3 separate regions of the Homo sapiens genome follow, and all the other regions are linked to region 3. Evidence: fine-mapped expression QTL. Tissue or cell type: whole blood. Region 3 holds a variant in brackets; each other region holds the start of a gene. Each region is shown on its reference strand, or each on the opposite one. Region 1 holds the start of LINC00534 (long intergenic non-protein coding RNA 534). Region 2 holds the start of CTTN (cortactin). Region 3 has its middle 12 kb from the start of ZNF367.

Region 1 (4,244 bases), not on the chromosome of region 3:
ATGTGAGGACAAAGGAACACAGACTGGGTCATGATTCATTAGTACTTAACTTAGATCAAGCTAAAGCAGACAAGAGGAGATAAATTTCTTATCAAACAGCTTTAGTGATGATGGAAGATTTAGACTCTATTTCAGCATTTTGCTTATTGAATTCCACATAGACAAATTTATCATTTTGAATCTCCCCAGTAAATTTTCTCTGCATTCAAATAAATGATAAGCTATGGGCGAAGAAATTCTCTCCTTTAATACTTTAATACCATATACAAATCTAGTCATCACATTAGTTGAATCCTAGAACCTCCTTCCTTTTGTGAATTAAAAACTTACAGCTCTTGGAAGACCAAGATATCAATACTGAGAATAATCAAAGGGTACATGTATAAGGATGGTGATGGGAGGTTAATCTCAACAGATACAGAAGTAAACAAAGCTTGGCTTAATAAAGCAAATGGTTATTTTAAGCAACATCAAATTTTTATAACGAGATCAGTAATGGAGAATATATAATGAAGCTTTTCAATAGAGTTCAAGGATTGAAACGAAGTGTGAAAAACACGACATTTTAGAAGCACACATCTATACAACACTGAAATTAAGATTAGGGATAGTAAGTGACATGGCAGGAATTTCTTTCCATTTTTTTTTAATTTCATAATTTTTTTTAATTTCACAGATTTTTTTGTTTAATTTCACAAGGATTAGTACATGAGCCATTATTTATCTGGCTTAGTAAAAAGTTTTCTGCCTATCTTAGCTAAGAGAAATGGAAGGCAACACTTTGATATGAGTGAATATAGCAATAATCAAGAAATTCCTATTCTATGAGATGTGGCAATGGTCGCAAATAAAATGTGACTAGTGTCCATGGGCAAGGTGAATAATTAATATATTCATTCACTGGGGACCTACATATAGTTCCCAATGAATGGGAACTTTTGGTATTAAAAAATTTGTATAAAGGTAATTTTTTGGTATAAAAGAAAATTATTAGCTTAAATTTCATCCTGTGCTCTCAGGAAAAAGAAAAATACTATTGGTCGTTTTTTAGAGAATGATACTAGGTATCAGCTAGCGTACTCAAGACCTGTGATATATACACATCATGTAAAATTTAAACACACCAACACTTACTAACATACAGCAATAGCACCAATATATTGAATAGACTTTAAACAGATTATTTTCATTAATTAAAGAAAATACCTGATATACCTCACACAGCTACCTGCAAAATGCTGCAAACACAGCAGAAGCTCAATAGAGATATTAATTAATCCAGTCAGCTAATGGTGATACCGTAACTACAAAAGCTGTATCCAAGATGATAGAGTTCTTAACTGGCCTCTCTGTCTTCAGTCTCACTGAAGTCCCACCCTCTAGACTGCAAAATAATCTTTCCAAAGATGAAATTTCTACTATGACACTCTATTTTTTAAATATTTAGTGGCCCGCAAAATAAGTTCCAACTTCCTTAGCATGTCTTCCTCACACGGCCCTTCATGATTTGGCTGTTATGTATCTAGACACCCTTAGATCCTGATACTTCCACACTTATTCCCTACACTCCCAGAATGCTAGACAACCAGCAATTCCTTGAGTATACCTTGTAGTCCCGTTTCATGCCTTGATCTCTATAGCAGCCATCATTGATACCCACCCATATCCGTTCAGCACTCACCATTTCTGTGAACCTCTAACTGCTGGCTTTCACCTGCGACTCTTTGCCTGAGGGCTTTCTCAGGTGGCCAGAGCTAATGGGGCCCACACCTGTGGAAAATCTAAAATAGAGAAGAATTAACATCCATAGGGAGCAGCTCTCAACCACAGAATGACTGGAACTGGTGAGCAGCTCCAAGTCATAGCCACACTGTTTCCCAGGGTGCTCCCAAAGAACTGAGAGACCCAGTTGCTCACAGAAGTAATCTGCCAGAAAAGACACTCTTTACAGTCATTCTTCCCTTCCTTATCTCACTTCCCACTCCCCTACTAGTGTTTCCTCCCAAATAAACTGCTGTACTCAACTCTTTGCCTCAGAGTGTGCTTCTGAGGAGAATCTTGTCCAAGATAGTCCCTTTACAAGTATCGTTCCCACTTCTGGAGAATATTTTTCCTTTCCTTCAAACCTACTTGGGAATTCTTCACCATCCTTTAAAGCAAACCTTCTTAAAATTTAATGTCATACAAATGACCAGAGATCTTATTAAAATAGAGATCCTGATTTGGTATGTCCTGAATGGGATCTGAGATTCTGAAGTTCTAACAGGCTTCTGGAAAAGGCGAATACCCCCAGTTTGAAAACCACACTTTGTGAGTAGCAAATATTTAAGACACAGTTCAAAAACCTATTTCTTTGGAAGTCTTCCCTAAAACTCCTTCATTCCTATCCTGATGATTAATTTTTCTTTTTCCCCTATGTTTATTACTGTGTGTGGTAATTCTTTGTTTACAGGTCTATCTCCAATGAGTTTGTTCCTTTAAGATGAGGATTGTCTTTTTCTTATCCATGTATCCACAATAACTAGCATATAGCCTGACATATTACCCATACCTAAGAAATGTTTGTGAACTGGTAAAATTAATGAACAAATTATAATTTTATGGCATACTTCACCAAAAATTTTATATGTACACATATTGTGTTCTGACACATTCAACTAAGTCAACTGTGTTATAAATATAAATTGTATAAATTCTTCAGATTTCTGGTCTATTTTTACATTAAATCATAGACTTCAGGACTTCTGAACAATGCAGATTATAGAATTTCTGCTGTAGAGATATTTAATAGGCTATGTCAACATCAGCTTAAAATGGTTTAGTTAACTGTTATCTAAAGGTCAGGAAAAGTATCAATCACTAGAATCCCTTCTTTGTATTCATATTTAAAATCTGTGGATGAATGTTGTGCAAGTTAGTCATTCATTGGGTTTAGGGAAGTGGAGAAGGTGGTGGCAGTGTGTGTGTGTGTGTGTGTGTGTGTAGGCACTTGCATGCATTTTGGGGGTGGGAGATATATTAGAGCAGAAATCACAAGAACATCCTAGGAGGAAGTACTTTATGGACTGCTCTCTTACCTGCCACAAATTGCTTGCAAATGCCATTGCCCTCAGAATCTCAGGATTGAACTTCTTGTTTATTTTAGTTGCTTCCTTCTTAAGAAAAATTCAATGTAAGGTGGTGAAACTAAATCTATCAAGGGAATAGCTATATGGTATCCTTAGATGGACAACTAATGGAAATAGCATCTGATCTTTCTACTTTAAGATGCAAGAACAGAAACTAGGGTGTTTTGAGCATATCAAGTTCTGAACTAGATAATAGCACTGATAATGGACTAAAGAAAAGTGATATGTGGAGCCCACAGTGTTGACTGGAAGTCAGCTCCTATCTCATTCCAACCTCATTCTCTTACCATTAGAAATCAACCCTGAGCATGTTAGAAAGATGTTCTCATGACAAGGAAAATGGCAACTGAAAGCCCTTGACATATTAAGATTTGACTAGATCAGAACTTGAATAACATTTTGTACTTTATTTGCATCTACCACATTGTATTTTAATTCTTACTGTCTAGGTCCATGTTTCCAATTAGGTTAGTCAAGTCCTTGAGAGCAGGAATCAATTTAATTCAGTTTTTTATTCCTGGAATATCGCTTGACCTATTGCAGATGTTCAGTTATCACTGTTGAGTTAATGAATCAATGAATGAATTGATCAATGAATAAATTATAGCCACATCATAATTGTTAAAAGAACACTAAACAGTGGATTAAAGCTTTGGGAGTCCAGAGAGCTAGGGAGGAGTCACAGTTTCTCAAAGATTTTACTAGTTCGAAAGGGTGTATTTAACATTAAAACAACAAAGAGATATACTTAGAACCCACTCTAAACAAAGACTAATAATAACAAGGACTGACGAGAATGTAAGAACTGGAACTCTCATGCATTGCTGGTGGGAATGTGAAATGCTACGTTTACTCAAAAATTATTATTTACTATATAACCCAGTAATTTCACTCTTAGATCTATACTCAAGAAAAATGAGAATCTGTGTCCAGACAAAGACTTGTGCATGAATGTTCGTAACAGCATCATTCATAATAGCCAAAATTTGGAGACTACTGAAATGTCTATCAACTTGTTAATGGAGAAGCAAAATATGGTATGTCCATATGAACGGATATATTCAACTATAAAAAGAACAGACTTACAGATAGATGCTACATTTATAAATTTTACCA
Region 2 (4,244 bases), not on the chromosome of region 3:
CAGCATCTATGGCAGAGCAGGAGGAGAAAGGAAACAGACACTTGCGTAGCCAAAATCACCATCACAGGCACACTCCCTACACCACACTTACTCAAGGGAAACCCCGCCCCCAACATTTACTCCGTTTACTCAAAGCAGTGCGTGAGCAGATGGGGTGGGCCTGGGCCACAGTGAAAGCCAAGCCTGCTCCTGGAGCACAGTCCCCTGCTCTTGGCTGGCCCAGGCCATGGGAATACTGCAACACAAGGCAGCAACCAGCGCTCACAGCAATTCACACTCTCAGGACACCTTTTCTGAGCACCTACTGCGTGGCACAGACTGAAGATCTGAATTGCCGATTATGTGTGCTGTCATTTTAAAAGTGTTTTAAAAACAAGTCCATCAAAATGCTACAATTAAAAGTCAGCTTTAGCTGGGCCTGCAGTCCCAGCTACTTGGGAGGCTGAGGTGGGAGGATCGCTTAAGGCCAGCAGTTCAAGGTTGCAGTGTGCTAGATGGCACCTGTGAAGAGCCTCTGCACTCCAGCCTGGGTGACAGGGTCTCGCTCTGTCACCCAGGCTGGAGTACAGTGGTGCGATCGAGCTCAATGCAGCCTCCAACTCCTGGGCTTGAGATCCTCTGCCTCAGCGCCCCAAGTAGCTAGGACAACAGGTGCAAGCCAACATGCCCAGCGAATTTCTTTTTTTGTAGACACAAGGTCTCCCTGTGTTGCCCAGGCTAGTCTGGAACTCCTGGCCTCAAACGATCCTCTCACCTTGACCTCCCAAAGTGCAGGGATTACAGGTGTGAGCCACCGCACCCCTGCCCCAGGTCAAAAGAAATTTCTTTTCAGTAAGATATAGCAGAAGGTTAGCTTCTAGTTCTAGGGGACCTAATATCAAAACAACCCTGCCTCCCCAACTTTTTATTGAGTCCCACTTAAAAGACTCTTCCTTGTTCCTTGAGTATCTGGCGAATACTTCTCTAACCAGAGGAGAAACAGGACTGACTCAGTGCTCTGGAGCCAGTGACTCACCCACACGGTCAAACACGTGAATGGAGACAGGGGCAGGCGGCCAGCCCCTCCTGCGCCACGGCCTTGGGCCCGGCCGGGCTTGAGGGCTGGATCATGCCTGAAGGACCTAGTGGGTGAAGTCCCCCCGACAGAGCCTGCGCAGCCAAGTCAACACTGAGCCCAAAGGGAGCGCATGGGATTCCAGGGAGCGCTCACCGGATGCCTCCGGAGCTTCCTTCAGCAGAAAATGAATTCCTCCCCAAGGGGCCCCAAACGTCCACAGATTCCAGCGGGAGGAAGCCCTGTCCCTTCTCACCCAAGGCCTTCCAGCTTCAGGGATCAGGCATCCCTTAGACTATCCAGGTGATGGAAACGTAACAGAAAGCCCCAAAGCACCGTTCTGGTGATTTTAAACACACCCCGAAGGAGGGACGGTTCCAAATTTAGAGCCTCACGACTAGCTGCAGCCGCGCCTCGCTGCCTCCACTGACCTGATTGCAAAACCTCCGCTCAGGTGCAGGCCGGGCGGATCCCCAGCTGCTCCGCCACGTCCCACAGCGAGCCCCTCAAAGTCGCGCACCCCAACCGCCTTGACCCCGCGGACCCCATCCCTTTTCCCTGCGCCTGGATCCCTTCCCCTGGAGCCCCAATCCCCTCCCCTCGGACCCTATACCTTTCCTCCGAGCCCCGACCCCTTCCCCTCGAACCCCAATTCCCTTCCCTCGGACCCCATCCCAGTAGCTCTGCGCCTGGACCCCTTCCCGTCAGACCCCAATCTCCTCCCCTCGGACCTCATCCCTTTCCCTCTGCACCCAGACACCTCCCTCTCAGACCCCTCGCCCTTTCCTTGAGACCCCCCACACCCACCTTCCTTGGCCCCTCGAACCCCGGCCCCCTCCGCTCAGACCCCCGAACCCCACAGGCCCAGCCCCTCTCCCTCGGGCCCTAATACCCTCCCCCTCGGAGCCCATCCCCCTCTCCTATTCCCTCGGACCCAAGACCCCTCCCAGCCTGGCCCCTCTCCTGCCCTGGAGCCCCCCGGCGCCCAGGGACCCTCCCCTCAGAGCTGATACCCCAATTTGGCCCCTTTCTAACCTTCCTCCGCGGACCCCAGCCCCAAGCCCTCCGTGCCCCCTTGCCCCCTGCCCGGCCTCCTTGGGCCCAGACCCGTCCTCGTGGCCCTCGCGGACCCCCGGCCCTCGCCCTGCCCCGCCCCAGGCCGGGAAAGCCTCGCCACTCTGCCCCGGCCCCCGAAACCGCAAGCGGAAGAGCGGTGAGACCGCTGCGGCCGCCGCTTCCTTCCCCTTTCGCGGCCAGGCGACGCCACAGGAGGGAAGAAGCAGAGCCCGGCCTGCACCCCGGGCGGACGCCGCGCTCGCTCACCGCCGCCTGGGGTCGGTCCGGCCCGGGTCGGCCCTGGATTCCGCCGCGCCAGCCGCTCCCAGGCACCAGGCTCTACTTCCGGTTCCGAGGGCGGGGGCGGGGCCGCATCCGGGTCCCCGCGCGACCCCGCCCCCTGCCCCGCCTCCTCCCGCGTCTTGGCCCGCAAGAGTCCCGGGGGTCCGCCCGCAGCTGGCTAAGCGCTAGCCCGGCCTGTGGCGAGTCTGCAGAGCTCGCCCGGAAGTAGCGTTGCGCGCGCAGAGGATGGGCGCTGAGCAGCACACAGCCCGCGGCGGGGTCTCAGGATCCGCGGCGCTGCCCGGGGCCGGGGGAAGGAAGCCAGCCGAGGAGACGCACGTGCCCTGAGTCCGGGAGCGGGGAGCCTCTTCATCTCTCCATCCTCCCTCCGCGCGCGCCCTCAGCCGTCCTCGTCCGCTCACCATGCACCTCCCCTCCAAGAAAGGGCCACATGCGTGCCAGGGACGCGAGCCCCGGCCACAGGGACATAGCAGCCTAGAAGGTGAGTCAAGCGTTAAACCACATGGGTACTCACCTGGGAAATGAGATAAATGCCAAGAAGTGAGAGTTTCATAACATCGTATTGGGGAGACGGTAGGACCTGAACCCCTGGGAGACCAGAGGTTTCTTTGGGCGATTCACATGTTAGCCAAGATGTGAAGGCCCTATAAGAGTAAACAAGGTAAGGAGGGAAGAATTTTCCAGGCAGGCCAACAGCAGGTTCCAACAGCAGGGCCAACAGAGGTCCCAAGGCAGGAACGGTCTTGCAGCAGGGGAACTGGAGGAGGCTCAGCTCAGCATGGTAGAGGGCTAGTGGTGCAGCGGAGCTGTGGTGTGAGAGGGGCCAGGTCATGCAGAGGCCGATAGAGCACAGCGAAGACCTCGGTCTTTATTCTGGGAGACACGGGAAGTCCTCGGAGGAAGTTAAGCTGATAAGAGACATCATGAAGTTTGGGCCAGGCGCAGTGGCCCACGCCTGTAATCATAACACTTTGGGAGGCTGACATGGGAGGATCGCCTAAGGCCAGGAGTTCGAGACCAGCCTGGTCAGCATAGTGAGACCCTCGCCCCCGCCCGCCATCGCTAAATAAATAAATAAGACATAATGAAGTTTGAATTGTAATGAGATCACTCTGGCTGCTGTGTGGAAGATGGATGGGAGAAGGGCCAGGTAGAGCCTAATGTAGCCAATTCGGGCAGACCGCTGGTGGCAGGTAAGATGGGGAGAAGTGGATAGATGCAAGAGGCATTTAGAAAGCTAAACTGTCAGATGTGAGGATGAATTGGAAGTGCGGGTGGCGGAAGGAAATGTCAGGTGTTGACCATTTTTTTAAAGGTAAAATCATGACCTTCATACACATATAAAATGAACACGTCAAATATTTTATTTAACTCGATAATGAATACATCATAAGTTGTTACAAATTGTTTAAAGAATTTGGCCAGATGCAGTGCCTCGCGCCTGTAATCCCAACACTTTGGGAGGCCAAGGCAGGAGGATTGCTGGAGGTCAGGAATTTGAGACCAGCCTGGGCAGCATGGCAAGACCCTGTCTCTACCAAAAAAAAAAAATTTTTTTTAAGAAAAAAATTAGCCAGGCATGGTGACGTTTACCTGTGGTCCCAGCTATTCTGGAGGCTGAGGCAAAAGGACCGCTCCGGCACGGGCAACAGAAACCCTGTGTCAAAAAAAAAAAAAACGGAAGACGAATGCTGAAATGAATTTGCAAAAACTGCTCTATCTCTAGTGCAAAGGTCAATTGCATTTAACTGGACACAGCTAATTTGCATTTTCTGTGCACAAGGATTGTTGGCCAGGCTTGTAATACCAGCACTTTGAGCGGCAAGGCCAG
Region 3 (4,244 bases):
GTGAAGCCTTTAGTAGAAGTCTCTACTAAAAATACAAAATATTATCTGGACGTGGTGGCGCACACCTGTAATCCCAGCTACTCAGGAGGCTGAGGCAGGAGAATGGCTTGAATCCAAGAGGCAAAGGTTGCAGTGAGCCGAGCTCATGCCTTGCACTTCAGCTTGGGTGACAGAGCAAGACTCCATCTCAAAAAAAAAAAAATTTGCACATGTGTCTAATGACACTACATTAGATTCTAAAATGTACCTCAGATAAAAATGTAATTCTTGAGGATTGGCTGACTCAAACTGTATCTTGGCATGCTAATTTATACCAAAAGGGACAGATTGAACCATAGACCCTATGTACTAGACACCTACCAATTAGAGACTACCCTTTTGTGTGTGTATGTGTGTGTATCCCCTCTGGGTCTTATTCTTTTGTCCATATTGCTTTTTAAAAATTATATAGGCCAGGCACTGTGGCTCAAGCCTGTAATCCTAGAACTTTGGGAGGCTGAGGCAGGCGGATCACCTGAGGTCAGGAGTTCAAGACCAGCCTGGCTGGCCGGGCATGGTGGCTCACACCTGTAATCCCAGCACTTTGGGAGGCTGAGGCGGGCAGATCACGAGGTCAGGAGATCGAGACCATCCTGGCTAATACGGTGAAACCCTGTCTCTACTAAAACTACTAAAACCCCGTTTCTACTAAAAATACAAAAATTTAGCCAGGTGTGGTGGTGGGCGCCTGTAGTCCCAGCTACCCGGGAGGCTGAGGCGGGAGAATGGCGTGAACCCGGGAGGCGGAGCTTGCAGTAAGCCGAGATTGCACCACTGCAGTCCAGCCTGGGAGACAGAGCAAGACTCCTCTCAAAAAAAAAAAAAAAAAAAAAAAACAAAAAAAAAAACAGTCGGGCGCGGTGCCTCACGACTGTAATCCCAGCACTTTTGGAGGCCAAGACAGGCGGATCACGATCAAGACCATCCTGCTAACACGGTGAAACCCCGTCTCTACTAAAAATACAAAAAATTAGCCAGGCCTGGTGGTGGGCGCCTGTAGTCCCAGCTACTCGGGAGGCTGAGGCAGGAGAATGGCATGAACCCGGGAGGCAGAGCTGGCAGTGAGCCGAGATTGAGCCACTGCACTCCAGCCTGGGCGACAGAGCGAGACTCCGTCTCGAAAAAAGAAAAAAGATAATATTATTACCTCCTTAAAAGCAGAGAAAGCCTTTGGAAAAAAATCCACATACATTCGTCATAAAGCACTCAGGAAGATAGGAATTAAAAAATACGTTCTTAACATAATTGAATGTTATTCCTAAAATTAGTTTCTTATTTAATGGGGATACACTATAGGGAATTCTAGCATTGGAAATAAGGCAAGGATGTTCACTATCCACTACTTTTCAACATTGTATTGGAGGTGTTAACTACTATGATTAGATGACAGAAATCAATTACAGGTTGAGCATCCCTAACCTGAAAATCCAAACTTGAAAATGCTCCAAAATCTGAAACTTTTCGAGTGCTCACATGATGCCAGAAATGGAACATTCCACACCTGACCTCATGTGATAGGTTGCAGTCAAAATGCAGTTGCACAACATGGTTTATTCAGCATCCCCAACAGAAAAAAAGACCCTCCCGGCCCCTTTCAGCTGTGGTATATCTTTTCTGTGCATGCCCAGATTACCCCCCAACAAGCGTGCCTGTAAAGGGTAATAAAATTGTACATATGCAGCTGGATGCACCAATGGCAGGTTCCCCACAATGCCCCATATAGGGCCAAGACCTATGTGCATTACTCACTGTG[T/G]TTTTTTTTTTTTTTGCTTATTCTCTGCTCTGTGTTTAAAGATATTGTTGGAAATGCCAAAAAGATACCCCTATGGGTAACAGTGATAAGAAAAAAAAGAAGCACTTATGTTTATCTATAGCACAGAAAGTCATGCTGTTGGAAAAATTGGATGGCGGTGGAAGTGTGAAATGCCTTACAGAACAGTATGGTGTTGGAATGACCACCATATGTGACCTGAAGAAACAGATGGATAAACTGTTGAACTTCTGTGCTAAAAGTGATGGATAGAAGTTAATGAAAAATAGAAAAACACTGCAAAGCTGAAAATGAAGATCTTGATCATGTATTGAAAGAGTGCATCCATTAGCATTGCAGTGAGCATATGCCACTTAATGGCCTGCTTATCATGAGACAAGCAAAGATCTATCACGATGAACTGAATATTGAAGGGAACTGTGAATATTCAGCAGGCTAGGTGCAGATTTAAGAGAAGACACAGCATTAAATTTTTTTAAAGATTCGTGGTGATCATGAAGCAGCAGAGAAATTAACTAGTGTGCCAAGGTCATTGCTGATGAAAATCTGACAGCAGAACAAGTCTATAATGCTGATGAAACATTATTGTTTTGCTGTTATTACCCCAGAAATACATTGACTACAGCTGGTGAGACAGCCCCTACAGGAATTAGGGATGCCAAGGACAGAATAACTATGTTGCAATGTGCTCATGCAGCAGGCACACATAAATGTAAACTTACTGTGACAGGCAGGTGAAAAAGCTTGCTGTTTTCAAGGAGTGAATTTTTTACCAGTCCATTGTTCTGCTAACAAAAAGGCAGGGATCATCAGGGACAGCTTTTCTAATTGTTTTCACAAACATTTTGTACTAGTGGCATGTGCTCACTGCAAAGAAACTAAACTGAATGAGGACTGTAAGATTTTGTTATTCCTTGATACCGATTTTGCTCATTCCCCAGCTGAAATTTTCATCAAAAATGTTTGTGTCGGCTGGGTGCGGTGGCTCACGCCTGTAATCCCAGCACTTTGGGAGGCCAAGGCAGGTGGATCGCCTGAGGTCAGGAGTTCGAGACCAGCCTGGCCAACATGGTGAAACCCCATCTCTACTAAAAATACAAAAAAATTAGCTGGGCGTGGTGGCACATGCCTGTAGTCTCAGCTACCTGGGAGGCTGAGGCAGGAGAATCGCTTGAACCCAGGAGGTGGAGGTTGCAGTGAGCCGAGATCGCTCCACTGCACTCCGGCTTGGGCGACAGAGCATGACTCCGTCTCAAAAAAAAAAAAATATATATATATATATATGTGTGTGTGTGTGTGTATATATATACACATATATACATATATACATACATATATACATATATACATACATATATACACATATATACATACATATACATATATACACACATATACATACATATACATATATACATATATACACACACATACATATATACATATATACATATATACACATATATACATATATACATATATACACATATATACACACATATACATACATATACATATATACGTATATACACATATATACATATATACATATATACGTATATATACATATATACATATATACGTATATATACATATATACATATATACGTATATATACATATATACATATATATACATATATACATATATATACATATATACATATATACATATATACGTATATGCATATATATACATATATACATATATATACATATATATACATATATACACATATATACACAATATACATACATATACATATATACACATATACATATATATACATATATACACATATACATATGTACATATATACATATATACATATGTACATATATACATATATACATATATACATATATATACATATATATATGTAGTCTGTGTCAGAGCTGGAAGAAGTGGATATTCAAGACGTTTTTAATGAGCCTTGTTCCTTCACTAACTGAGGGTGAAATATCTGAGTTGGTTCTGAACCAAGGTGATCGTGATAACAGTGACAGTGAAGATGATGATGTTAACACTATAGAAAAAGCACCTATAGAGGACCTGGTGAAAATGTATGATGGGCTTATTGAAAACTAGGGCAGTGTGCATTCACAACCAAACAAGAAATCATGTCAATTCATAAAAATCAAGAGAGACGTCTAAGACAGAAACTGGCCGGGGTGATGGCTCATGCCTGCAATCCCAGCACTTTGGGAAGCCGAGGCGGGTGGATCACCTGAGGCTGGGAGTTCGAGACCAGTCTGACCAACATGGTGAGACCCCGTCTCTACTAAAAATACAAAATTAGACAGGCGTGGTGGCACATGCCTGTAATCCTAGCTACTCAGGAGGCTGAGGCAGGAGAATTGCTTGAACCTGGGAGGTGGAGGTTGCAGTGAGCCAAGATCGCGCCATTGCACTCCAGCCAGGGCAACAAGAGTGA

What was found. PIP is the estimated chance that this variant, and not a neighbour inherited with it, causes the effect.
Region 1: it holds the start of LINC00534, and the variant in region 3 is fine-mapped to the expression of LINC00534 in whole blood (TOPMed, PIP above 0.99).
Region 2: it holds the start of CTTN, and the variant in region 3 is fine-mapped to the expression of CTTN in whole blood (TOPMed, PIP above 0.99).

The regions. Positions count from the first base shown.
Region 1 is chr8:90,219,184-90,223,427 of GRCh38, reverse strand. LINC00534 (long intergenic non-protein coding RNA 534) reads right to left here and starts at 1,940. Exons shown (of 4, transcript NR_051989.1): 1 at 1,682-1,940.
Region 2 is chr11:70,396,748-70,400,991 of GRCh38, reverse strand. CTTN (cortactin) reads right to left here and starts at 2,463. Exons shown (of 18, transcript NM_005231.4): 1 at 2,378-2,463. It overlaps CTTN-DT (CTTN divergent transcript), which reads left to right and starts at 2,530. Exons shown (of 3, transcript NR_186321.1): 1 at 2,530-2,894. RefSeq lists enhancers at 1-249, 3,098-3,167 and silencers at 1,537-1,606, 2,188-2,697, 2,798-2,847, 3,945-4,133.
Region 3 is chr9:96,428,186-96,432,429 of GRCh38, reverse strand. No RefSeq gene overlaps it. Among named protein-coding and RNA genes, the nearest start is that of ZNF367, 12 kb to the right of the region's middle. The variant T/G (reference allele first, on the strand shown) is at 1,793.